7 linked regions of the Homo sapiens genome follow. The protein of the gene in region 2 interacts with the protein of the main gene of each other region in a pairwise test. Each region holds a gene or a part of one and is shown on either strand. Other genes may lie near its edges.

Region 1 (3,039 bases), on a different chromosome or scaffold from region 2:
AGGTGGCCCAAGTGGCTTCTGTGGTAGCCCACTGCACTCTCCATGGTACTGAAGGGATGACCATTTGTTTTAACATCTCTCTGGGGTCCAAAAGAGTCCTGTGACTTAGAATCACAAACTTTTTTCGAGCAGGAAGGGACTAACACTATAAATTAGTCCAATCCCCTTATTTTACTGATGAGTAAACTGGGAGGTTAAGTGATTTAGTAAAGGTTGTAGGGTTATCAATGTTCAGACTAGGCCTACAATAGCCTTGTACCCTTCAGTCCTATTCTAATTCACCTTTTGTGACACTATTCAGTAAGCCTGGCTAGGCTCTTAGTCCCAGGAAAGGATCCAGAGGATGAGAGTGGGTGCCCTAATTTGAAGCTACAGAAATACACATATTAAGTGGTAGTGGAGGTCGTCTAGTGACCCTTGGACAAGGACACTTTGTTAATTAATCATCTGCTAATAATAATCCTATAGCCCAGATTCCACATGTAACAGGTACCTGCCCCTTCATGGAGTTTTACCACATCCACTAAATGTCAAAAATTAAAGAAGCCTTGGACCTCCAGAGCCTTTTCTCTCTGCTGACAGGCAGGTTGACTCCTGGCACAGTTCTTTTCTATTAAAGATCCTTAGGCAAAGTAATGCTTGCATCTTTTTCTTTCTCAGTAACCCATTTCAGTTTTGTGATGCCTATTGTAAGGAAGTTCTTTATATCTCAAATATCCTTTCTTAGACAAAAAAAAAAAAAAAAAAAGGTTAGACCCACATTCATTTAGCCTTGACCAGATACTATTCTATATGAGGCAGAAAGGTAGACTAGATGACTTCTGGTCATCCTCCCAGGTCTGTTTCCATGAATCTTGATTCTGGGGTTTCTTCTAAGTCCTCATGCTAAACTCCTCTGCAGCTTAGGATCAGCACCCGCCCCCCCCCCCAACCCCTATCCTCTTCCTCTCAATGATCTTCTCCTTCCCCAGCACTGGAGCTCTGCAAGTCCCAGGCCTAGGGAATTTTAGCCTGGAGAATTTTAACCCTTTCCTGCTCAGAGCATGTGCTGAGTCCCTATCTGTGCAGATGGCCCAGCCCCGCCCCCCGTCCCTCACTCCAGCCTCTTGAGCTCAGAGCCAGTGTAATCCTCCTCTTGTGTGAGGGAGCCTCTCCCCTGCAGAGAGGAGGAAAGCCTGCCTCGGAACAGCCCTGGACAAAGGGGCTCAGATGCCCCATCATACTGCAGGCTCCAAGGTTTGAAACAAGGGGATGAATCCTATACGGTATTTGCAGTTTTTAGCCCCTTCCCCAGGCTAGCTGTGCCCCTTAACTTCCACTCCTCCCCCAACTCTCTCTTCATTCCCTCTCCCTCTGGCTCCCTCCCCCTTCATGCCCCTCCCCCTCTGTCTGTCTTCAGACTCTGCTGCTGGGAGGTGTTTCTCTCCCATGCATGAATGAGTCTCTGTAATGAATGGAAATGAATGGATCAGGAATCCAGGCGGAGGGAGGGAGAATGAGGGGGGAAAGACAGAAAGACAGGGTAAGGGCAGAAGGAAGCACTGTGGAACCTGGAAGGATGTTTGGCTGGCTGCTCAGTTAGGGATCTCAGAGCAACTGGTCCCACTTGGATAAATGGGGAGCATGGCAAGCCCACCTCATTTGCTCACCACACTGCATAGCCCAACCTACATGGGAGAGGGGCATATTGTGATGGTCTTCCCCACCGCCAGGGGGTGGGGTGGTAGCTGTGGTTGTTCTGGACCATGCATTTAAAATATAGAATTTGGGGAAGAAATCTGGATTATCTGGGAGGCTTGTAGGCTTGGCAAGTCAAGAGGTACAGTTTTTGAGTATAGCAGCCCCTTCGTGCCTCAAGAAGCAAGTAGGGAGAATGGATTGGTTTTGGGAATACAGAATGCTGAGAGTCTGGGGGTAGGGAGTGACTTTACTGCTGAAAACTAGGGCTCATCTTTTCCTCCAAATCTGTCTCTTGCTTTAGCTCCACAGCACCTGTTGCCTTCATTAGCAGCTTTTCCTCCTCTTCCCTGCACTTCCCAGAACCAAAGAATGTGAAGGGGGTCCATGGAGGTGAGTGAAGCTCTGGCTTCAACCTACAAGTACCTACAACTGTATACTCCCTCTCCTGCCTACCTCTCTCTCTCTTTGACCTCCCATTATTAGAAGTTAACTCCTTGGCCCTGACATCTCGATTCCCATACACCTCCCCCCACCCCATCTTCCCGAGGTGAGTAGCACCCTGTGTTCCTAGTTCAGGCCCCAGCCCACCTTCCCTCGTGTTGTCCTTCTGGCCCTCGAGGCGACGCCCTTGCTTCCTTTACAGCTCTACCTTCACCCTTTGCTCTACGCAGATCTTTCTCCACAGGGCTCACGTCCCCGCGCCCCGAGCGGCCACTTAGCGCCGTCGCCGCCGGCTTTCGACGGCGAGCTGGATCTGCAGCGATACTCCAACGGGCCAGCCGTGAGCGCAGGGTCGCTCGGGATGGGAGCGGTGAGCTGGTCTGAGAGTCGTGCAGGCGAACGGCGCTTCCCCTGCCCTGTATGCGGGAAGCGCTTCCGCTTCAACTCTATCCTTGCTTTGCACCTGCGGGCGCACCCAGGAGCCCAGGCCTTCCAGTGCCCTCACTGCGGCCACCGCGCGGCGCAGCGGGCTCTGCTGCGCTCGCACCTGCGCACACACCAGCCCGAGCGCCCACGTAGTCCTGCTGCACGCCTGTTGCTGGAGTTGGAAGAGCGCGCGCTACTACGCGAGGCCCGACTGGGGAGAGCCCGAAGCTCAGGGGGCATGCAGGCCACCCCTGCCACTGAGGGTCTGGCGCGGCCCCAGGCTCCTTCATCGTCCGCCTTCCGTTGCCCCTACTGCAAAGGCAAGTTTCGCACCTCGGCGGAGCGCGAACGCCACCTGCACATCCTGCATAGGCCCTGGAAGTGCGGCCTGTGCAGTTTCGGCTCCAGCCAGGAGGAGGAGCTGCTGCACCACAGCCTGACGGCCCACGGGGCTCCCGAGCGTCCCCTGGCGGCCACCTCCGCTGCGCCTCC
Region 2 (3,500 bases):
CCCACCTCGGCCTACCAAAGGGCTGGGATTACAGGCGTGAGGCACCGCGCCTAGCCTATGTTACATGTATTTTAACACAATTTTTTTTTAAAGGCAAGGCATAGAGCAGACCCTTTGAATCTCATTAGGAGAACACTACAACCCTTTCTACTATTGGTTCTGCCTCTAACATCACTCGCATGACCCAAATGTAATATTGTTATTACTACTATACTTTATTGATCTCTCAGGCCAGGCACTGTTTTAAGCACATTTAACCGTCTTAGATGAGCACTATTAACAGTTTTACTTGAGGAAGGACACCAAGGCACAGAGAACTTAAGTAACTGTTTGACGTCACAGAGCGTCTACAGTTGGAGCTAACACCTGAAACCAGGCAGACCACTTCCTAGGCCATACTCTCTCAGGAAAGAAAAGCATTTTGTAGATTACTAAAACATGACAATCAATCTCTCTACCCATCTATCTATAGTTTATCTGACTTTCCTAACAATCCTGTGACTTAAGCAGGAAATGTATGCTTATTTCATAGATGAGAAAACAGTCAAGTGGGTATCAATGAAGAAACTAGTTCTGGAACTCAAGCCTTCTGCCCTCTCATTTACAGCACTTCCTACACTACACCACCCTGATGATGAGATGGTAGATCCTGAAATTAAACTCTAGAAACTATCTGGAGCCCTGCTTTATACATGAAAATGGGCACACTATATCAAGATATTCTTTTCACATGTGGTTTGCTCTCAAATAAACTCATATATTAAAGGGATAAAACTATTAAACTATTAATCCCGAAATCTGCCAAGTGATCATGCTGAGACTTGGAGGAACTCTATGGGTTAAAAAAAAAAAAAACCATAAAAACACTATTTACTGAGGCTTCAAGAGAATAAAGCAGCATTTCATTGAAGCATTAAACATGCTGCTGTGGATACTAATCATAGAGAACGCCTGCCTGGGTCCCTATAGCCCTCGAGGACTCTTGGATTCCACACTTCAACTAGCAACTTACCAAAGTCAAACACTTCCTTTGAGAAAAATAACTCCAAAAATCATTAGAAACGAATTAACTTCATTTGACTCCTGGTGAGTGTTCCTCAATTCTTCCAGTACAGATCAGGACATCACAAAGTCAAACATCCAGCTAATGTCCTAATTATGCTCCTCGCATCTACCAAGACTTCATGACAGGTACACAAGGTCCTACACCGAGTGCTTCCACCCCCTGACTACATGACGCTGAGCATATACATCCTTTCTCTGGGTCTTGGTTGATTTGTAAAAAGGGCCTGGGTTCTAATGGTTTCTAGGTTTCTAAGTGCCCGCATTCTGCGATTCTGTTTGACACAGGTTAACTACACTCTTAATCTGTGACTCCCCAGTACAATGCTGGAAACGGCCTAGTTCACATATAATTTTTAACATTATTTTTAATGTTAGCAATACTTTAGTGATACTGTTTGCACTACTTTTATACCATGAGACATTAGTGAAAATCAGAATGTACCAAAAACTTAGATAAATACCACTAATGTGTTGTTTCAGGAAGATGTCTTCATACACATGCCTAAATTTAGGAGGGTAAAAAACCTACCACAGGAGAAATAAAGAGGAAATAAAGAGGAAAGCACCATTCTGATATAATATAAAGATCACCAGCTCACGATGAAGCTACTAACAAAGATGTATAACCAATGCCCATCCTTTTAACACTACCTACTGACAACACAGAACTTAAAAAATATCTGCAAGTATGCTAAACATGCTTAAAGAGCAAAATTTTAATACCACCACCCTTTGTTTAAAGCTAAATAATTAATATCTAGGGGAAAATGGATAGTCAATCTGTTTATAAAATAAGACCTCTAAGAGGAAGCCTTATATGGGAATTTCCAAGTCATTTTGCACTGGTTCAAAATGCTGTTTTTTAAAAATAGTGTTGCTCTTAACTTTTATTCAAGAAATAGCAGTTTAATTTGAAAGATCCCAAGGACCCCAAGAAGTACTGAAATCTACACACACAGGCAGTATTCATAAAATGCTAAAAGTTGTCAAAGGTGGCCACTTTTACTTCTGTGTACACTTTTCTAAGAGGTACTACAAAGGAAATGAAGAACTGATTTTTCAAAATCAAAAGATGAAACTTTTGGCACTAATGTAGCTTTCTGCCCTGCCATATAAACGCTTACCATTTTCCTCCTCCTTTTTCTCTTTTCTCCTCAAAACAATTTGTCAAAAAAAGATACAACCTCTCTATTGATTGGAAAGTTTTAAGATTTTAGCCACAGAATACCACTTGGGGATAGACAGTAAAATTTTGCTCACCAGTTTCTAAATTCCTAAAACTTTTTAGCAGCTCATTTTTGATCAATACCTGGAAATCCACTAATGCAAATTAAATGATATAAAATTCCTCTGTAGTCACTCATCATCCACCCATTCTCACATATATTGCAAAGAACTGATACGAAACGTTACTGACTACAAAAGTAAGACCACTTGTCCTCAAGAAAGCCACCCTCTATCTTGGTCACTATGTGCATAATACAATCCTGCAGCTAAAATACAGCAGGCTTTTACAAAAAGGAAGGCTGTTCTAGATTCTTCCAAGTTATGAGGAGCTGGTAGTCTGTTAAGGACCTAATTTCCTATGACCAAGCACCACAATAGTAGCTATTAGTCATAACTTCAACTTATTTGAATAAAGAAACACAACTTTGGCTAAAGACCTTGTTACCCTGTTCTTTTTAAAAAGTAATACTTTTAATTCACAAAACAACAAAACCACAATAATGCCATTAGTGATATATTACCCCATCCTTCAGACAGGAACAAAATCTGGATAGAAATGCCACCGGGCTTTAAAAAACATAAAGAAGTGAGTCTAATTTTCACTAGTGGTTTAGGCTGCACTGTGAAAACAAACAACATCAAGAAGAAACAAGAAACATTTCATTAACTAGGGGCCTCCCAAGTCTGATTCCAGGACACTGGTACCTGTTTCTGTGCTCAACGTTCAGATCCTACAATCCAGTGCTAAAATGAACAGTAAGAGATATGAAGAAATAGGAAACAGGAGTTCTGGCTAATGGTCATTCAACATAATGACATTAGGTAAGTTTCTTTGTGCCTAGGTCTCCCATTTGTAAAGATAACCTGCAGCAGCTTACATACTGGGTTTCCTAACATACGCCAAGAATCTTTAAAGTAGGGGGAAAGCTAGAGCCTATAAAGCTCTTTGGATGATGAAGCAGCAATGCGATGCTCTCCTAAATGAACATGCTGGTATTTATACACACACCTGAATGCTGTTCCTTTAAAAAAAAAAAAGCACCACAGAAAATCATACACTTATTCTAAAAATGCTGCCATAGCACAAAAGTTCAGACATTTTTCTGGAATTGCTTTAGAGTCAGCAATTCATTCTTCTGAATATACAGCAGTGGAATATGGATATTCCTAATTTCAATTTACGTTTTGCTTATTTCTTAGATTTGAAG
Region 3 (2,769 bases), on a different chromosome or scaffold from region 2:
GCGCCCGCGGTCCAGCTCCTCTGCAGACGGCCATCGTGGGCTCTCCGCAGGGCTGCGGAGTCTCGGAGTCACCGAGGTGGGAGGTGCCGGCCACGCGCGTCCTCAGGAACAGAGCACTGCCCTGCAGTTTAGCACGAAGGGCCGGCTGGAGCGGGAGCGCGAGGCCCACTGCAAGAGGATCAGGAGCCAGTAAGTCCGGCTTTTCTTCGTCTCCACCTTTCGTGCGCCCGGGGCCAGGACCGCCTGTCCGGAATCTGACCAGTGCCCGTCCTCGCCGTGGCCCTGGGACCCCGCGGTGGTCTTCTTTTGGGGACGAACGGCAGTGCCCGAAGGATGCTCTACCCACCCCCGTTCCTAGACTTGCTGGGTCCCGACAATACCCAGTGGGTGCCGCGAGTTCCCGGGCGCAGAGTCCAGCGTCCGGCTCTCGAGCTCAATCCCGCGCCCCGACGGCCTTGGCGCTTCCCGCTGCGCTAAACTGTCCACCGCGCACAGGCTGGAAGCGAAGTCGGGCCCCCTCCTCCTGGTCTGCAGGGTCCCTCCAGGCCTTTCCTGTCCGGGCAGAGAGACAGTCACAGGGGCGATCGGAGGACGCGTGCGGGAGGGCCGGGGGCCCGCGCGGTCACGGCTTCTCGTGACAGTGTTTGCAAAGCGCGGAGGGCGTCCCGGAGAAGGCGGCGCACTTGTCAGGGCAGGGCCCCAGGGCGGCGCCTGCGGAGAAGGGGCACACAGTGGCCTGGCCGAAGGGCGTCAAGGGCGCGGCGTTTACGGGCGCGGCCAGGCCCTGGCCCTGGTTGAGGAAGGCCACCAGGCGCCGCATCTCGTCCAGGGCCTGCGCCTGCATGAGGATATAGTTCTTGGCGAGCAGCAGCGTGGCGATCTTGGAGAGCTTGCGCACCGACGGGCTGTGCGCGTAGGGGATGACGGCTCGCAGCCCGTCCAGCGCGTCGTTTAGGTCGTGCATGCGCCGCCGCTCGCGCGCGTTGATGCTGAGCCGCAGAGACCGCTGCTCTCGCGGCCGCCGCCGCCCGTCCGCCGCGCTCCCTGGCCCGCGCCGCCGCCGCCGCTGCTCGAAGGCGTCGTCCTCGTCCCCGCTCTGTTCGCCGCTGCTCTCCGCCGCCTGAGCTGGGGCGCGAGGTGCAGGCGCCGCGGGGAGGTCGCCGCCCGGGCCCGGAGTGCCGTAGCCGCGGGCCGCTTCGGGTTCTCGCGCCGCCCCGTAGGCGAGACCCGCAGCCGCCGCCGCGTAGCCGTGGCTTAGTGCCAGGTACGCGTCCCCCGACAGCGACTTGAGCTCGGCCATGGCCGCGCCGCCTGGGCTCGGGGGCTCGCCGGGTGGGCGGATGCTCATGTGGGTGAGCAGCCCCCGAGGCCGGCCCGAGCCCGCCGCTGCCGCTGCCGCTGCGATGAGGCTCCCGGCTCTGCGCGTCGGTCTGGCTTGCCTGCGGGTCCCAGAGCCTCGGCGCCCGCTGCCTCCTCCGCCTCTTCCTTCTCTCCCACCTCCTCTCCCTCCCAGCCGCGACGCGCAGGGGGCGGGCTCTACCTCCCCCTCGCCCCCGCTTCGGTTTTAAGCCGCGGAGGCGCCCGGTGGGACCTCGCTGCTGTCCAATCAGGGGGGACCGGGTGAGCTCCTCTTCCTGGAGCCGGGCTCCACCAGCGCCGCAGGCTCACAGGCCGGGGGTGGGGGCTCTGGACCGAGGGGCGGCGCGGGGCGGCGCGGGGCGGCGCGCGCGGTCCTGGAGCGCTAGTACTTGCTTCTCGACTCCCCGGCCGCCGCCTCCGGCCGCCCCGGGGATTCCGCCACCAAACGCACGCGTCCCAGGTGGGCACCCGCCTCGGTCCGTCTTTGAGTCTGACCCTAGCGCAAGAGTCCCTGGCGACACGCAGGGGCCAGAGCGGGGGGGCGCGCCGCAATAGCAGCAGCGCCAGCGCCAACACCCTGTCCCGCTGAGGGGCCGCTTCGGGTCGGGGTCAGGGTCGTGGGCGCTCTGGTGCAGCCGCGGCGCAGCGTGTACCCGGAGCCCGCACACTCCCTGCTCGGGGCGCCCTGTGGCCAGGCTTGAGGGGCAGAGTGAGAGGGAGTTTCTAGAACCTGTTGAAAAACGCCACGAGCGTTGCAGGCCGGGGAGGGCGGGAAGGTGGAGGGCAGCGCGGCCTGGGGCTCCCCGGGGGTGGGAGGGGAGCTCTGTGAGCTGCAGGACCGCCTCTTCCCTGCCAGCCGCTTCCTGGGCATCTATCAGCGAAACGCGTGAGGCTTGGTGGGCTTTCCCGGAGCCTCCGAACCCCTGGGGTCCAGCCACACTGGATGGGAATGTGGCCAGCCTCGGACTCGCCTTTTCAGTCCTCTTCCAACCCCGCATGAAGGCCAGAACCCCAGCCCTTCTCCCAGGTGGGAACCTGCCTGGAGGCCCGGCCGAGTGCTGAGGCTAGAGTGTGCTGAGGGATAGTGGCTTCTCCGGTCCTGGCTTGGGTGGGAGACTGGGCCACCCTGGCCTATGGCACGAGGTGGAGCGGCCCGTCGGGCCCTTCTGTGTGACCTGGGAAGGGCCGCATACCCTCCCTGTTCTCCAGGCTCCGCCCCAGGAGGAGCCACAGCGATGGGGCAGTGTGCGCAGCCCCGGGAGGGGAGTGGGAGCTGCACGTGTGTGGGGCGGATGTGCTGTCTGGAAGGTTCTGGGAACGCAGCAGTGACCGGCCTGTCCGGTGGTTCCCTGCCAGGTGCGGGGTGTGAGGAGACAGATGCATGGATAAGTCTCCGTGGGAAACTCAGGC
Region 4 (3,500 bases), on a different chromosome or scaffold from region 2:
TTCAGAGCCTAGCTCTGGTCCTCCATTCGCCACATGTTTTTTGAGCACTTATAGGTGAGTCACCACCCTAGGTTCTGGGGAAATGGTGAACAAAGGGCCAGAAGTCTCTGCTTCCTGGAGCTGACGTTCACTCCATAATGCTGGACAAGACATCCTGAGCCCATTTCTTCGTAAAAAGGAAGGAGAATGTGGGTCATGAAATGATCTGCTATATGAATGTAGTGTTATAATGTTGCTTTGTCTCAAAGGTTGGTTTGCTGAGCCAGGTAGTGTCTTAGGGGCCAGGGATAGAGAGATAACTAAAACAAAGCTCCTACCCTCAAGACCCTCTCAGTCTAGTGAGGAAAGCGGAGAAACTCACAAATAGGAATAAAAGGAGGCACTATATTGCAAAGCTATCATCTTGAGTTACCTGGGAGTCTGATATGAAGGTCACCCTAATAAAGACAGACTATGCTTTTGGAGTCTCAACAGGACTTGGCAGAGCAGCCAACCCTGGTGCACTCTAGACCTTGAGGGTGATAAGCCCAAAGAGGGTTGGATTGAGGGAGGGAGCTGCATGGGGGCCGTGGCCGGCAGGGTCCCTGGAGATTACAGCAGCAGAGCACTGGCTGGCTCTGAAGGGGAACCCTTGCCAGGCCTCTAGCAGAGGCTTGTCTTTCCATGTACAAGAAAAGTTAAGTGGTGAGGCCTGGAGAGGGGCCCCCTTCTGTACTGTGGTGAAGATAAACGAGGCTGGGAGAGGAGTGAGGGGACGCTATCCCAGAGAGGCTCCTCCCCACAGAGTGGGCAGAAGGAAGACAGAACTGGCCAGCCCCTCGGGGGAGTCGAGAAACCTTCCAGAGTGTGGGTCCCTGTCTCCATGCCCTGCCTCTCCAGACCTGAGTGCCTGCCCTCTGCTGTGACTGCCAGCCTCGTCTGTCCTGTTGGGTGAACTCTGTCCCATCTCTCTTGCCCCTCAAACATTTATTTATCCGGTGTCAAATTCCTACCCACCTTCCTCCAGGGGCCAGGCGCTACGAGATGAGGGGAAGGAACGGCAAGGTCAGCGGGAGCCCGTGGAGTCAGACCCTCCAGCAGCACCACTGGGGGCTGGGCAGGAGGGCATGGGCTGAGGCCACAGGGAAGGGCTGCTCCACAGGGAGGCCTCCCTCTGCTCCGTGGCAGTTGTGGTGCTGGAGATGGAGACCGTGTTTGCTTGTTGGGACCACATCTGCTTTCAGAGGGGAAGCGGGTCACTTCTTTCCCCTGGACCTGGAATGGGCACAACTGAGACGCAGGGAGCATTCCTGCAAGCTGGACACTGCTCTGGGAGAAGACCTCCATCCAACCTCCTGCCAAGACCCCAGCAGCTGCCAGTGTCACTGCCCACAAAAGTATTTGCTTAGCCCAAGAAGGAGTCAGTCAGATGTGTGGTGGCCATGAAATGGATCCTGCTGATTCTCTGTCAGACCTCCCTGCATTGGTCACTACCTCAAAGTTCCTTGGCTGCAACTCCATGTTGCCTGAATCTAGGGACTGTTGACGTATTGCAGGGGCTGGGCGCGGTGGCTCACGCCTGGAATCCCAGCACTTTGGGAGGCCGAGATGGGTGGATCACCTGAGGCCAGGAGTTGGAGACCAGCCTGGCCAACATGGTGAAACCCCGTCTCTACTAAAAATACAAAAATTAGCTGGGCATGGGGGCGCACCCCTGTAGTCCCAGCTACTCAGGAGGCTGAGGCAGGAGAATCACTTGAACCCAGGAGGCAGAGGTTGCAGTGAGTCGAGATTGTGCCACTGCACTCCAGCCTGGGTGATGGAGCGAGATTGTCTCAAAAAAAAAAAAAAAAAAAAGAGCTGCAGGGAAGAATGGCTGAGTGGAGGCCAGTGGCTTCATTGTGCCTCATCTGAACTCCCTGAAGGCTGAAGCAGGTCCCTGAGGCTTTCTGACCACACCCTCCACTCCCCGGCTGTTTCTATTTTTTTAATTTTTTTTTCTGAGAGGGAGTCTTGCTCTGTCACCCAGGCCAAAGTGCGGTGGCTCACGGCAACCTCCGCCTCCCGGGTTCAAGGGATTCTCCTGCTTCAGCCTCCCAAGTAGGTGGGATTATAGGAGCCCACCACCACACCTGGCTAATTTTTCTGTTTTTTAGTAGAGATGGGTTTCACCATGTTCGTGATTCTGCTGTTTCTAAGGAGTCTCTCCCAGGACCATGGGGGTCCACAGCAGGCCCTGAGACCCTGAAGCAGGTTGGCTGCACCTGGGCTACCACCTGCAGTAAAGGGGCTAATCTCTGAATGAGGCTTCCTGGTTCTCAGGCAGGGGATGGAGAGTAAGGACCACCCACTGTGCCTCAAGCTTCCCCCCTGCTGTCACTTAGGAGCCTGCCATCCTGCCATCCCTGAGAGCTTCCCAAGCAAGGCACAAAATCCACAGCCCTACTCTGACAAAGTGGCAAACACCAGCCCCTCTGGCAGCATGATGCCTTGGTCCTGTGTGCTGGAGAGAGCCTGTGTGTTTACTTGTGTGCCCGCCCATACAAGCCATGTCCCTGCGCCGCTTGAGCCCTGTTGGCTGCCTAACTGCTCATCAGCCTCTGACGCTTTGAGGTCCCTTCCTGGTCTCAAGATCCTCTGAACATCTGCCTCTGATAGGCCTTGAACCCGAGCCGCCTCCGGGCTTTTGTATTCAACTGCAACCATATCATTTGCCCTTGCTGATTCACTGTTTTGCACTTGATCTTCTGGCTGCTTCATGTGAGTCTGTTTTGTCTTCCTGCCGAGATAAAAACTCAAGGCTGGGGACTCGCTGACCAAATAACAGAGCAAGGCAGGCTTTTCGGCCTTGCATAATCTGATTCTTATTAAAACCCGCCGATTTCCAGGCACCAAGCCCCTATCCTCGTCAACAAGAAGTTTATCAGCAGGGTTGACTGACTCACAGGGAGGTGTGACCTCACTGCTGGAAGGAGGAAGTGCCATCAGAAACCTGTATAGATAATTTCCTGAAAGCTTCCAAGTTTGGTTTTTTGGGGAACTCCTCAAAGGAGAGGTGGATGGCAGGGGAAGGAGGAGGGGTGATGGGGAGGAGCAGAATAAGAAGTTGTACAAACAGGAGAGGCACAGAGTGGGGAGAAGGAAGCCACCACGGACGGTGAGCCCTGGGGCTTGGAGAAGGCCCTCGGCACCCTTCCAGGGCAGCTCCCACCTGTCAGTTGAAACCACCACCTGGAGACTTTCCACCATTCTCAAGGCCTTCCCACAGGTTCTACCCACCCACTGTCCCCCACCATCTGTCTGCCTCCCAGGCCACGCTGTCCACACTGAGTGAGCCCGCTAGTTTATTCAATACTAGGAATAAGCCGGTATAAAATACATTTTTAGAAAATTCACTTGGAGATAAAAAATCTTGTCCCCACTCCTCCCCCAATCCCACACATCTGTGCTCTTCTGCCTGAGTTAATTCAGCTTTGCTGAGCCTCCTGCAAGAGCTTGAGCAGGGGGTCGTCAGCCCTGAG
Region 5 (3,500 bases), on a different chromosome or scaffold from region 2:
AGGATGGTCTCGATCTCCTGACCTTGTGATCTGCCCGCCTCGGCCTCCCAAAGTGCTGGGATTACAGGCGTGAGTTACCGCGCCTGGCCACAAGACCCCATCTTTACAAAAAACTAAAAATTAGCTGGGCATGGTGGCATGTCCCTTTAGTCCCAGCTACTCAGGAGGCTGAGACAGGAGGATCGCTTGAGCCCAGGAGATCGAGGCAGCAGTGAGCTATGATCATGCCACTGCACTCCAGTCTGGGCAACAGAACGAGACCTTGTCTCTAAAAATAAAAACAAAACAAAACAACAAGAAAACAGGACCATCACTCACAGCACCTCTGCCTCTGCCCTGCCTACTTGAATGAGGTGCAGGGCATCTCACCTGCTCAGAGCAGCCCTTGAATGAGCCCCAGCTATTTCTAGGGTCCTCAAACGAAACCTCCCACGGCCAAGTCATACCCAACATGGGCCTCCTCCCCTATTCTGGCCCCTGCTCGGAGATGCTGAGTGACAGAGGCTGGACTTGGGGTGTTTCTGGCAAAGCCTCACTGCAGGAAGCCCCACAGCTCAGGCCCAGTCCTTGGTTCACACGGTCCCACTTCCAGCTTCTTTTGCCCTTAAGACTGATTTGTCCCTGGGAGATCACCAGATCCCTCATTCAGGTGGAGTGCTGCAGCGTGACACTTTTTCCAGGGGTGACCCAGGCCTGCAGGGTTCCAGTGTCACAGGCAGGCCTTGCATGAGCCTCCACCCGAGCTTCTGCTCCTCCTCTCCCACAGGGAACGTGATGTTCTCTTCCCGGGGTACACCCATTTGCAGAGGGCCCAGCCCATCCGCTGGAGCCACTGGATTCTGAGGTGAGCCAGGTGAGGTGCAGGGGCTGTGCTAGAGGGGAGGACCCCGGCTGCCCTGACCCTCCTGCCCCTGGCTTCCCACAGCCACGCCGTGGCACTGACCCGAGACTCTGAGCGGCTGCTGGAGGTGCGGAAGCGGATCAATGTCCTGCCCCTGGGGAGGTGGGTGAGGCTCCAGTGCCCCGAGGGCCTGGTGGGGGTGGCTGCTGCATAGCCTTAGGGATTGACAGAGCTGGGAAGTGCAGAGTGGGACAGAAAACCGCCTTATCTGCTCAGCGGGGGACTCTGCATGGAGCCCCAGCTCTCGCTAAGGTGACGACCAAGCCATTGAATGTGTCTGAGCAGGGCCAGAGCCCTCCAGCAAGGCTCCTGGCAAGCCCAGCCTGCTGCCCTCAGCCTGACATGTGGGAACATGTGTCAGGAGACAAGTGTCCTGCACCCAGGGTGACTTAGTGCTTGGGGACAAGTGTTTTGTGGACACTTGGGGACAAGTATTCTGTACCCAAGGAGACTGGGCCAGGGAAGAGGCTAAGCGCCAGGTGGTTGCCCTGGCAACCAGGACTTGGTTCTCTGTGTGTGCGTTCGTGTGTGTGTGTGTGTGTGTGTGTGTGTGTGTGTGTGTGTCAGGGCTGCCTGCCAGGAGCCCTGGTCACCATGAATCCCTGTCCCTGCAGTGGGGCCATTGCAGGCAATCCCCTGGGTGTGGACCGAGAGCTGCTCCGAGCAGGTGAGACGTCCTGCCCCTCCTCCCCAGGGAGAATCACCCTCAGCACCCGCCAAGACCTGCAGACACACCTGAAACCAGAGGGCAGGGGCCTGTGGCTCCTGGTGAAACCTTCATTCATTGCCTATGGGCACTGAGGTCATCAAGTTCAGGGGTCACTCATGGCAGGGATGCCTGGTACTGAGAGACTCAGGGCTCCTGCCTCCCTCCTGGGACTGTGCAAAAGATCCCTCCCCCCAGCTGTTGCCCCACCCTGATCAGGGGAGGGGGCTGGGCAACCTAGTTGGGGGAGAGGGGGCCACTCCCTGTCCTCCAGCTTAGCCCTGCTTCCTCCCACCCCCCCAGAACTCAACTTTGGGGCCATCACTCTCAACAGCATGGATGCCACTAGTGAGCGGGACTTTGTGGGTGAGTCCTGGGGAGCCAGTCCCCTGCCCTGTGCCTCACTTTAGTCCTTCAGCCCAGCTTCTCTCCAGTTTCCTCCCACACCTCCACGGACAGGCTGGTTGTGGTGATATTGTACACTGAAGTATAAACCTTAAATGGGTAAAGTGGGTGGGGCATGGTGGTTCACCATGCCCAGCACTGGCCAACATGGTGAAACCCCATCTCTACTAAGAATACAAAATTTAGCTGGGTGTGTGGTGGCAGGTGCCTGTAATCCCAGCTACTCAGGAGTTCTGAGGCCAGAGAATCACTTGAACCCAGGAGGCGGAGGCTGCAGTGAGCCAAGATCACGCCAGTGCACTCCAGCCTGGGCAACAAGAGCGAAACTCCATCTCAAAAAATAAAATAAAATAAAATAAAAATAAATAGGCCAGGCATGGTGGCTCACGCCCGTAATCCTAGCACTTTGGGAGTCCGAGGCAGGTGGATCACATGAGGTCAGGAGTTTAAGACCAGCCTGGCCAACATGGTGAAACCCCATCTCTACTAAAAGCACAAAAATTAGCTGGGCATGGTGGTGCATGCCTGTAATCCCAGCTACTCGGGAGGCTAAGGAAGGAGATTCGCTGGAACCTGGGAGGTAGAGGTTGCAGTGAGCCAAGATTGTGCCACTGTACTCCAGCCTGTGCATTGGGAGCGAGACTCCATCTCAATAAATAAATAAATAAATAAATGGATAAATTGTATGTGAGTGATAACTCAGTAAAGCTGGTTTATTTAAAACAACAACAATAACAAAAAACACGCTAGGTGCAATGGCTTACGTTTGTAATCCTAGCACTTTGGGAGGCCAAAGCAGAAGGATTGCTTGAGCCCACAAGTTTCAGAACAGCTTGGGCGACATAGCACGACCCCATCTTTGCGAAAAATGAAAATTTAGCCGGGTCCCCCCACCGCCTAACCTCCTCCTGCCCCCTGTATGGTCAGGCTGGGTGGGGATGGGAGAGGCCTGGTGACTGGGAACCTTTTCTCCCAGCCGAGTTCCTGTTCTGGGCTTCGCTGTGCATGACCCATCTCAGCAGGATGGCCGAGGACCTCATCCTCTACTGCACCAAGGAATTCAGCTTCGTGCAGCTCTCAGATGCCTACAGGTAAGCCCTGAACTGCCACCTCCATCTGCCGCTGCCGGCCTCTGTATCCCCCGCCGCCCGCGGACGTGGCTGCCTTCCTCCCCGTCCCACCCCTCCGCCAGACCTGGCCATTGCGGCGCTGGACCAGCCAAGGGTCCAGCCCCTTCAGCGCCAGCACCTCTGTCCCCAGCACGGGAAGCAGCCTGATGCCCCAGAAGAAAAACCCCGACAGTTTGGAGCTGATCCGGAGCAAGGCTGGGCGTGTGTTTGGGCGGGTGAGCAAGGCAGGGGGAGGGGCGGGGCCTCTGGGCTGATGGTGGGTGGCCAGGGGGGCAGGATCCCGGGTCCAGCCCCTGTGCCTCCCTCTTCCCGCAGTGTGCCGGGCTCCTGATGACCCTCAAGGGACTTCCCAGCACCT
Region 6 (4,279 bases), on a different chromosome or scaffold from region 2:
CTATTATCAAAAAGAAAAAAACATGTTGGCAAGGATGTGGAGAAAAGGGAACTCTTATACACTGCACTGTTATTGGGAATGTAAATTAGTATAGTCATTATGGAAAACAGCATAGAGGTTCCTAAAAAAAAACTACGAATAGAACTACCATATGATCCAGCAATCCCACTACTGTATATATATCCAAAGGAAATGAAATCAGTCTGCCGAAGAGATACCTGCACTCCTGCGTTTACTGCTAGTCACAACAGCCAAGATAAGGAATGAACCTAAGGATCCACCAACAGATGGATAAAGAAATGCGGTACATATATACACTGGATATTAGCCATAAAAAACCATGAAATCCTGTCACTTGCAGGAACATGGATGAGCCCAAAGAACATAATGTTAAGTGAAACAAGCCAGGCACCATAAGATGTTCTTGTTAACATGTGGATGCTAAGCAAGTTGATTTCACAGAAGTAGAGAGCAGAATAGTGGTAACTGGAGGCTAGGAAGAGTAGAGTGTAGGGGGCTAGGGAGAAGTTGCTTAATGGATACAAAATTACAGCTAGATGGGAGGAATAAGTTCTAGTGTTACACAGTACCTTAGTGTGACCATGTTGGCAGCAATTTATACTTTCAAATAGCTACAAGAGAGGATTGCGAGTGTTCCCAACATGAAGAAATGATTATTTGGGGCGAATATGCTAATTACCCTAATTTGATCCTTAAACATTGTATACAGGTATCGAAGTATCACACTGTAACTCAAATTGTATGCAATTATGTGTCAATTAAAAACAAATATTAAAAAGAAAAATCAACCAATAGGAGGCTTTATATAAATAATGGTCGTACCAACTATATAATGAAATAACATACAGTCCTTTAAGTCAGTGAGCTAGAACTTGTATGCACTAGTCTTTATTTTTAATTTTTTTAATTTTTTTTTAGATGGAGTCTCACTCTGTTGCCCAGGCTGGAGTGCAGTGGTGCAGTCTTGGCTCACTGCAACCTGCGTCTCCATGGTTCAAGCAATTATCCTGCCTCAGCCTCCTAAGTAGCTGGGATTACAGGCGCGCACCTCCACACCCAGCTTATTTTTGTATTTTTAGTAGAGATGTGGTTTCATAATGTTGGCCAGGCTGGTCTCGAACTCCTGACCTCAGGTGATCCACCCACCTTGGCATCCCAAAGTGCTGGGATTACAGGCATGAGCCACTGCGCCCAGCCTGTATGCACTAGGTTTTAAAAAGTGCCCAATATATAAACTCAAATGAGGATGTTGGGTACAGTCTCATTGCTGAGATTCTAAAAGCTAAAAAAAAAAGTTCTATATATTGGTACAAGAGTGGAAATAAGCTGAAAGAATCTACATCAAGCTTTTTTTTTTTTTTTTTTTGAGACAGTCTTGCTGTCTCCCAGGCTGGAGTGCAGTGGTACGATCCTGGCTCACTGCAACCTCCTCCTCCCAGGCTCAAGCGATCTTCCCACCTCTGCTTCCTGAGTAGCTGGGACCACTGGCACAGGCCACCACGCCTGGCTTTGTTTGTTTATAGAGACGGGGTTTCGCTATGTTGCCCAGGCTGGTCTCAAACTCCTGAGCTCAAATGATCCGCCCGCCTCGGCCTCCCAAAGTGCTGGGATTACAGGCGTGACCCACCGCGCCCCACCTACATCAAACTTTTTTTTTTCTTTTTTTTTCCAGACTGAGTCTGGCTCTGTAGCCCAGGCTGGAGTGCAGTGGTGCGATTTCGGCTCACTACAACCTCCGCCTCCCGGGTTCAAGCGATTCTCCTGCCTCAGCCTCCTGAGTAGCTGGGATTACAGGCGCGCACCTCGCCCGCCTAATTTTTGTATTTTTAGTAGAGACGGAGTTTCACCATGTTGGCCAGGCTGGTCTCGAACTCCTGGGCTCAGGTGATCCACCCGCCTTGGCCTCTCAAAGTGCCGGGACCACAGGCGTGAGCCACCGCGCCCGGCCAGGTCACTTCTTTTTAACTGTACAAAAGTGTGTTCACATCATACACAGAACTTACTTGGTTCTTTTTTTCTCTTAACAAATCAAGGACGTCTCCTTGTATTGTACATGGACTTACCTCTTTGTTTCTAACAAGACATTATTTACACGAGTGAAAATACTGTTAAAGTTAGCGCAGTTTCAGCCAAATGGTGAGGGGCTACATCAGAATACTGAGGAAGAAACTGCTAGGGTAGACCTCGGTGGGAAAAGCAATCGGAAACTATTTCTAAGCAAAAAAGAGTAACACGCAGAAGGAGAAGCGGGGTAGAAGAAAGGCTACTGACCAAAACCCTGAGAGCGATTACAGGCAGGGACAACAGAGGGAACTGTCCGACACACAGAGACACCAGGGACCAAGTCAGAGGAAGCAAGGTTCCTGCAGAACCCGCGGAGACCCGAGGCGGGAAAGGAAGCGCAGCCCAAGGGTCCACGCCCCCAAGACGGAGGCTGGACGTGGGGGCTGCCCCGTGCGCAGTGGTACGAGGGCTGGCGGGGACGGGGCTCACCTTTGTGCTTCCGGAAGCAGACTACCGAGCAGCTGTAACAACAGAGGCCACAGGCCGCGTCAGCCCCGAGGGTCCCCGGCCCCTCCAGCAGCCCGCCCGCTCCCGCCCGGCCTCCCGGCCTCCCGCCCTCCCGCCATGGCCGGACACCCGCGCCCCTGGACCCCGCGACCTCCCCGCTCACTAGGGCACGCGGCAGGCTGGACAGCGGTATTTGGGCTTCTCCAAGCAGATCACGCAGACGACGGTGCTACATTTGAGCGACGCCATGGTTTTGTGGAAGGAGACTGTTCACTGCGCCGCCGCGCGCCTCTCACGCAGCCGCGCCCGCGTGCACGCCCCTTTTTCCGTTTCCTAAACGGGGACCAATCAGCGCTCAGCAGGTAGGCAAAAGCAATGGACTGATCCTGCTCACTGTTCCAGCCCTCGTACTTAGAGCGTCGATACACTCGATGCGCATCTATTAGCTGCGTCCCAGGTTTTCCTTGATTAGATCACAGCGTCGAAGAACTTGTTATGTAGCCCAGTCCCTGTCCCTATGCGGCCGTGTGGCTTGGAGCAAGCCATCGACACTGTCCAGGTGTGTTGCCCCGCATGTAAAAAAGAAAACAATACATGGAACTAAACGTCCTTTACTTTCTGGCTGGGACTTCCTGAATCTTGCAGGGACATTGGGGTTCATCCGCCCATCTCATCTGCTTATTCTTGGCAAAGGACAAGTCCAGACATTGGGCGAACCAGAATCGGTTGGATCACGCAGTAGACAGGAACCTGCCCTTCCCAACCTAGACCATTTTTCACTGGGGAAAGAAAGATGAGCCTGAACAGTGGCAAATGTTTGAGCTCCAACTGTGAGCCCTTCCGGGCTGGGGACCCCCCGGGGTCTTCTAATGAAGAAGTCGTCTCTGTCCCCTGGGAACTAAATGCTTAGAGTGAAAGTAGGACGGGGAAACGGGGAGGAAAGAGACTCACTCTTAGAGTCCTGCCGTCGCTACCCTGCACCTGCACGCCCCTGAGACTGAGTGCTTCTTAAATTTTGCACTCTAGGCTCCTCACACCTCCCCCTAGTCCCGGAAGCTAATTGACCAGGAAGCAGGCCAGTGACCACTAGTCCCAAGACGGGGATCCCAGGCAGATGAGTCTGGATAGATGGGCTATGATGGGACTTGAATGCCACCACAAACTTTAGGTTTAGAAAAAGTAATGTTTTTTGTTGTTTGTTTTTTAAGGAAATTTGCTTGCAGCTAGGCATGGCCCAGCCTTACCTTAGCTCCCATCCTACCTGCACTGGGCCCTCCCAGGGCCATAAATCACCCTTACTCCCAAGTGCCTCCTCTTCTGTGTTGGCCGTTCAGCCTTCAGGGTCCCTCTTCAATAAAGGTGTCTGCAGGGATGTATCTGCAACAACCGAGGCAGTGGTTTGAACCTTGGCTCAACCCCCTCCCTGGCTGTGTGACCTGGAGGGGTTGGTTACCCCCTCTGAGCTCCCTCATCTATTAAAGTGGATGTTTGGGCCTACTTTCCTGAGCTGTTGTAAAGCAGAGAGGAGACCATGTGCAAAAGTTTTGTAATCAGAAGTGCTACCTGATATCTAGAAAGAGTCTTAACTCTCATGGATCTCCGTCTGGACCGCATGAACATAGGTCCCAGGCCCCAAGCCATGCTCTCCAAAACAGTTCTGCCGCCTGCTTCTTGAGTGGGAGGTGAGTAATTATCCTTCCTTTGGGCGTGGCGACCCAGTCCAGTCCTCAGTGCTGAAGCTGCTGGG
Region 7 (3,500 bases), on a different chromosome or scaffold from region 2:
CTGGGGTACTATTTTGCCAAAAAAAAAAAAAAAAAAAAGAATGAGATCCAGTCGTTTGCAGCAACAACACGGATGGAACTGGAGATCATGATGTTAAGCAAAATAAGCCAGGCACAGAAAAACAAATATCGCATGTTCTCACTTATCTGTGGGATATAAAAATCAAAACAACTGAACTCATGGGCATAGAGAGTCGAAGGATGGTTACCAGAGGTGGGGAAAAGTAGTGGCGAGCTGGAGGAGAGGTGGAGACAGTTAATGGCTGACAAAAAAAAAATACTTAGAAAGAATAAAAAAGACATACTATTTGATAGCACAAGGTGTCTACAGTCAATGATAACTTAATTGTACATTTTAACGTAACTTAAAGAGTGTAATTTGATTGTAACTCAAAGGATAAATGCCTGATACCCCATTCTCCATGAGGTGCTTATTTCACATTGCATACCTGTATCAAAACATCTCATGTAATCCATAGATATATACACCTTGTATGTCCCCAAGAAAGTTAAAGAAGACAAAAAAAGGTAACAAATGCTGGCAAGGATATGGAAAAAAAGAGAATCCTTGTACACAGCTGGTGGGAATGTCAACTAGTACAACTACTATGGAGAACAGTTTGAAGGTCTTTCAAAAAAAAACTAAAAAGAAACCTGCCATATGATCCAGCAATCCTCCTGCTAGGTATATAGCCAAAAGAAAGGAAACCAGTATGTCAAAGAGATATCCACACTCTCGTTTGTTGTAGCACTGTTTACGATAGCCAAAATTTGGAAACAACCTAAGTGTCCATCAACAGATGAATGCATAAAGAAAATGTACATACACACAGTGGAGAACTATTCAGCCATAAGAAAGCATGAGAGCCTGTCATCTGCAATAACATGGGTGGAACTAGAAGTCATTAAGCTAAGTGAAATAAGCCAGGCACAGAAAGACAAACAGCACAAGTTCTTACTTATTTGTGGGATCTAAAAATCAAAACAACTGAACTCATGGACATGAGTCAAAGGATGGTTACCAGAGGTTGGGAAGTGTAGTCAGGGGGACTAGGGAAGAGGTGGGGATGGTTAATGCGTATTTAAAAAACAGAAAGAATAAGTAAGACCTAGCATGTGACAGCACAACAGGATGATTATAGTCAGCAATAATTTAATTGTACACTTTAAAGCAACTAAGTATAATTGGATTATTTGTAATACAAAGGGTAAATGCTTGAGGGGATGGACACCCCATTCTCCATGATGTAATTATTACAAATTGCATCCCTGTATCAAAATATCTCCTGTACCCCATAAATATACATACTTAGTATGTACCCACAAAAATTAAAAATAAAAAAATTAAGAAAAAAAACATCGATTAAAGACTTAAATGTGGCCAGGCATGGTAGCTCACACCTGTAATCCCAGCACTTTGGGAGGCCGAGGTGGGCAGATCACGAGGTCAGGAGATCAAGACCATCCTGGCTAACATGGTGAAACCCCGTCTCTACTAAAAATACAAAAAACTAGCCAGGCGTGGTGGCAGGCGCCTGTAGTCCCAGCTACTTGGGAGGCTGAGGCAGGAGAATGGCATGAACCCGGGAGGCAGAGCTCGCAGTGAGCCGAGATCACGCCACTGCACTCCAGCCTGGGCGACAGAGTGAGACTCCGTCTCAAAACAAACAAACAAACAAACAAAAAGACTTAAATGTAAAACCTGTAAGTATAAAAACCCTAGAGGAAAACCTAGGACATACCATTATGGACATAATCCTTGGTAAATATTTCATGACAAAGTCTCCAAAAGCAATCGCAACAAAAACAAAAATAAATAAGTGGGACCTAATCAAACTAAAGAGCCTCTACACAACAAGATAAACTGTCAACAGAGTAAACAGACAACCTACAGAATACAAGAAAATATTTGCTATCTGTGTATCTGACAACGGTTTAATATCCAGGATCTATAAGAAACTTGAACTAATCAACAAGGAAAAATGGCAAACAACTCCATAAAAAAATGGGCAAGAATATGAACAGACACTTCTCCAAAGAAGACATACACATGGTCAAGAAGTGTGTGAAAAATTATGCTCAACATCTCTAATCATTAGAGAAATGCAAATCAAAACCATCCAGTCAGAATAACTATTACAAAAAAGTCAGAAAATAACAGATGTTTGCGAGGTTGCAGAGAAAAGGGAATGCTTACACGCTGCTGGAGGGGATGTAAATTAGTTCAGCCACTGTGGAAAGCATTTTGGAGATTTCTCAAAGACCTTAAAACAGAACTACCATTCAACCCAGCAATCCTATTACTGGGTATATATATCCAAGGGAATCTGAATCATTCTACCAAAAAGACACATGCATGTGTATATTCACTGCAGCACTATTCACAATAGCAAAGTCATAGAATTAACCTATATGCCCAGCAACAGTAAAATGGATAAAGAATATGTGGTACACATACATCCAGGGACAATTACACAGCCATAGAAAAAAGCAAAATCACGCCCTTTGCAGCAACATGGATGTAGTTGGAGGCCATTATCCTAATCAAATTAACACAGTGGCAGAAAACCAAATACTGCATGTTCTCACTTATAAGTGGGAGCTAAACGATGAGTACACACAGACACAAAGAGTTAAATAAACACTGGTCATACTTGAAGATGAATGGTGAAAATAGGGTGAGGGTCTAAAAACTACCTATTGGTTACTATGTTCACCACCTGGGTGATAAAATCATTTGCACACCCAGTCCCACCAGTGATATTTGACCCATGTAACAATCCTGCACATGCAGCCTCTAAACCTAAAATAAAAGTTGAATAAGAAAAAAAGAAACTGGTGAATGATGAAGGTCTGAATATGAAGGTAATAAATTACATGCCTTAAAGTAATATGAAACCTTTTATACCGTACATTATTTATACTGTTATTTTTTAAATTTGAGTTATCTATTTTGAATTTTCATTAAAACGTAAGAACTCATTTATAAATTGGGTAAAATACCTATTGCTAAATATTTGTATTTCCTTTCACAGTTTTATTCTTTCTTTCTTTTTTTTTTTTTTTAGATGGAGTCTCACTCTGTTGCCCAGGCTGGAGTGCAGTGGTGCAATCTCGGCTCACTGCAAGCTCCGCCTCCCAGGTTCATGCCATTCTCCTGCCTCAGCCTCCCAAGTAGCTGGGACTACAGGTGCCCGCCACCACGCCTGGCTAATTTTTTGTATTTTTAGTAGAGACGGGGTTTCACCGTGTTAGCCAGGATGATCTTGATCTCCTGACCTCGTGATCTGCCCGCCTTGGCTTCCCAAAGTGCTGGGATTACAGGTGTCAGCCACTGCGCCCAGCCACTTTTTTTTTTTAAACAGCGTCTCACTATGTTGCCCAGGCTAAAGTGCAATGGTGCAATTACAGCTCACTGCAGCCTGGAACTCTGAGGCTCAAGTGATCCTCCCACCTGAGCCTCCCAAGCAGCCGAGACCACAGCTCCGCACTGCCATGCCT

Evidence for each region.
Region 1: the proteins of CSNK2A2 (region 2) and ZNF219 interact in a two-hybrid assay, tested with the Homo sapiens proteins (one large-scale study listed by BioGRID and IntAct).
Region 3: the proteins of CSNK2A2 (region 2) and BHLHE23 interact in binary tests that used the Homo sapiens proteins (3 or more experiments, as listed by UniProt).
Region 4: the proteins of CSNK2A2 (region 2) and DCPS interact in a two-hybrid assay, tested with the Homo sapiens proteins (one large-scale study listed by BioGRID and IntAct).
Region 5: the proteins of CSNK2A2 (region 2) and ASL interact in a two-hybrid assay, tested with the Homo sapiens proteins (one large-scale study listed by BioGRID and IntAct).
Region 6: the proteins of CSNK2A2 (region 2) and ZNHIT3 interact in a two-hybrid assay, tested with the Homo sapiens proteins (one large-scale study listed by BioGRID and IntAct).
Region 7: the proteins of CSNK2A2 (region 2) and ZNF670 interact in binary tests that used the Homo sapiens proteins (3 or more experiments, as listed by UniProt).

Annotation. Positions count from the first base shown.
Region 1 is NC_000014.9:21,092,617-21,095,655, reverse strand, and holds part of ZNF219 (zinc finger protein 219), read left to right. Parts: intron 1-1,981; 5' UTR 1,982-2,064; coding exon 2,065-2,070; intron 2,071-2,365; coding exon 2,366-3,039. UniProt on the Homo sapiens protein: Transcriptional regulator. Recognizes and binds 2 copies of the core DNA sequence motif 5'-GGGGG-3'. Binds to the HMGN1 promoter and may repress HMGN1 expression. Regulates SNCA expression in primary cortical neurons.
Region 2 is NC_000016.10:58,191,607-58,195,106, forward strand, and holds part of CSNK2A2 (casein kinase II subunit alpha'), read right to left. Parts: intron 1-3,500.
Region 3 is NC_000020.11:63,005,427-63,008,195, forward strand, and holds BHLHE23 (class E basic helix-loop-helix protein 23), read right to left. Parts: upstream 1,539-2,769; 5' UTR 1,349-1,538; coding exon 623-1,348; 3' UTR 501-622; downstream 1-500. UniProt on the Homo sapiens protein: May function as transcriptional repressor. May modulate the expression of genes required for the differentiation and/or maintenance of pancreatic and neuronal cell types. May be important for rod bipolar cell maturation.
Region 4 is NC_000011.10:126,345,560-126,349,059, reverse strand, and holds part of DCPS (m7GpppX diphosphatase), read right to left. Parts: coding exon 3,447-3,500; 3' UTR 1-3,446. UniProt on the Homo sapiens protein: Decapping scavenger enzyme that catalyzes the cleavage of a residual cap structure following the degradation of mRNAs by the 3'->5' exosome-mediated mRNA decay pathway.
Region 5 is NC_000007.14:66,085,819-66,089,318, forward strand, and holds part of ASL (argininosuccinate lyase), read left to right. Parts: intron 1-766; coding exon 767-844; intron 845-925; coding exon 926-1,003; intron 1,004-1,515; coding exon 1,516-1,568; intron 1,569-1,910; coding exon 1,911-1,973; intron 1,974-2,988; coding exon 2,989-3,103; intron 3,104-3,272; coding exon 3,273-3,357; intron 3,358-3,457; coding exon 3,458-3,500.
Region 6 is NC_000017.11:36,485,202-36,489,480, reverse strand, and holds the start of ZNHIT3 (zinc finger HIT domain-containing protein 3), read right to left. Parts: upstream 2,801-4,279; 5' UTR 2,782-2,800; coding exon 2,696-2,781; intron 2,547-2,695; coding exon 2,515-2,546; intron 1-2,514.
Region 7 is NC_000001.11:247,068,812-247,072,311, forward strand, and holds part of ZNF670 (zinc finger protein 670), read right to left. Parts: intron 1-3,500. UniProt on the Homo sapiens protein: May be involved in transcriptional regulation.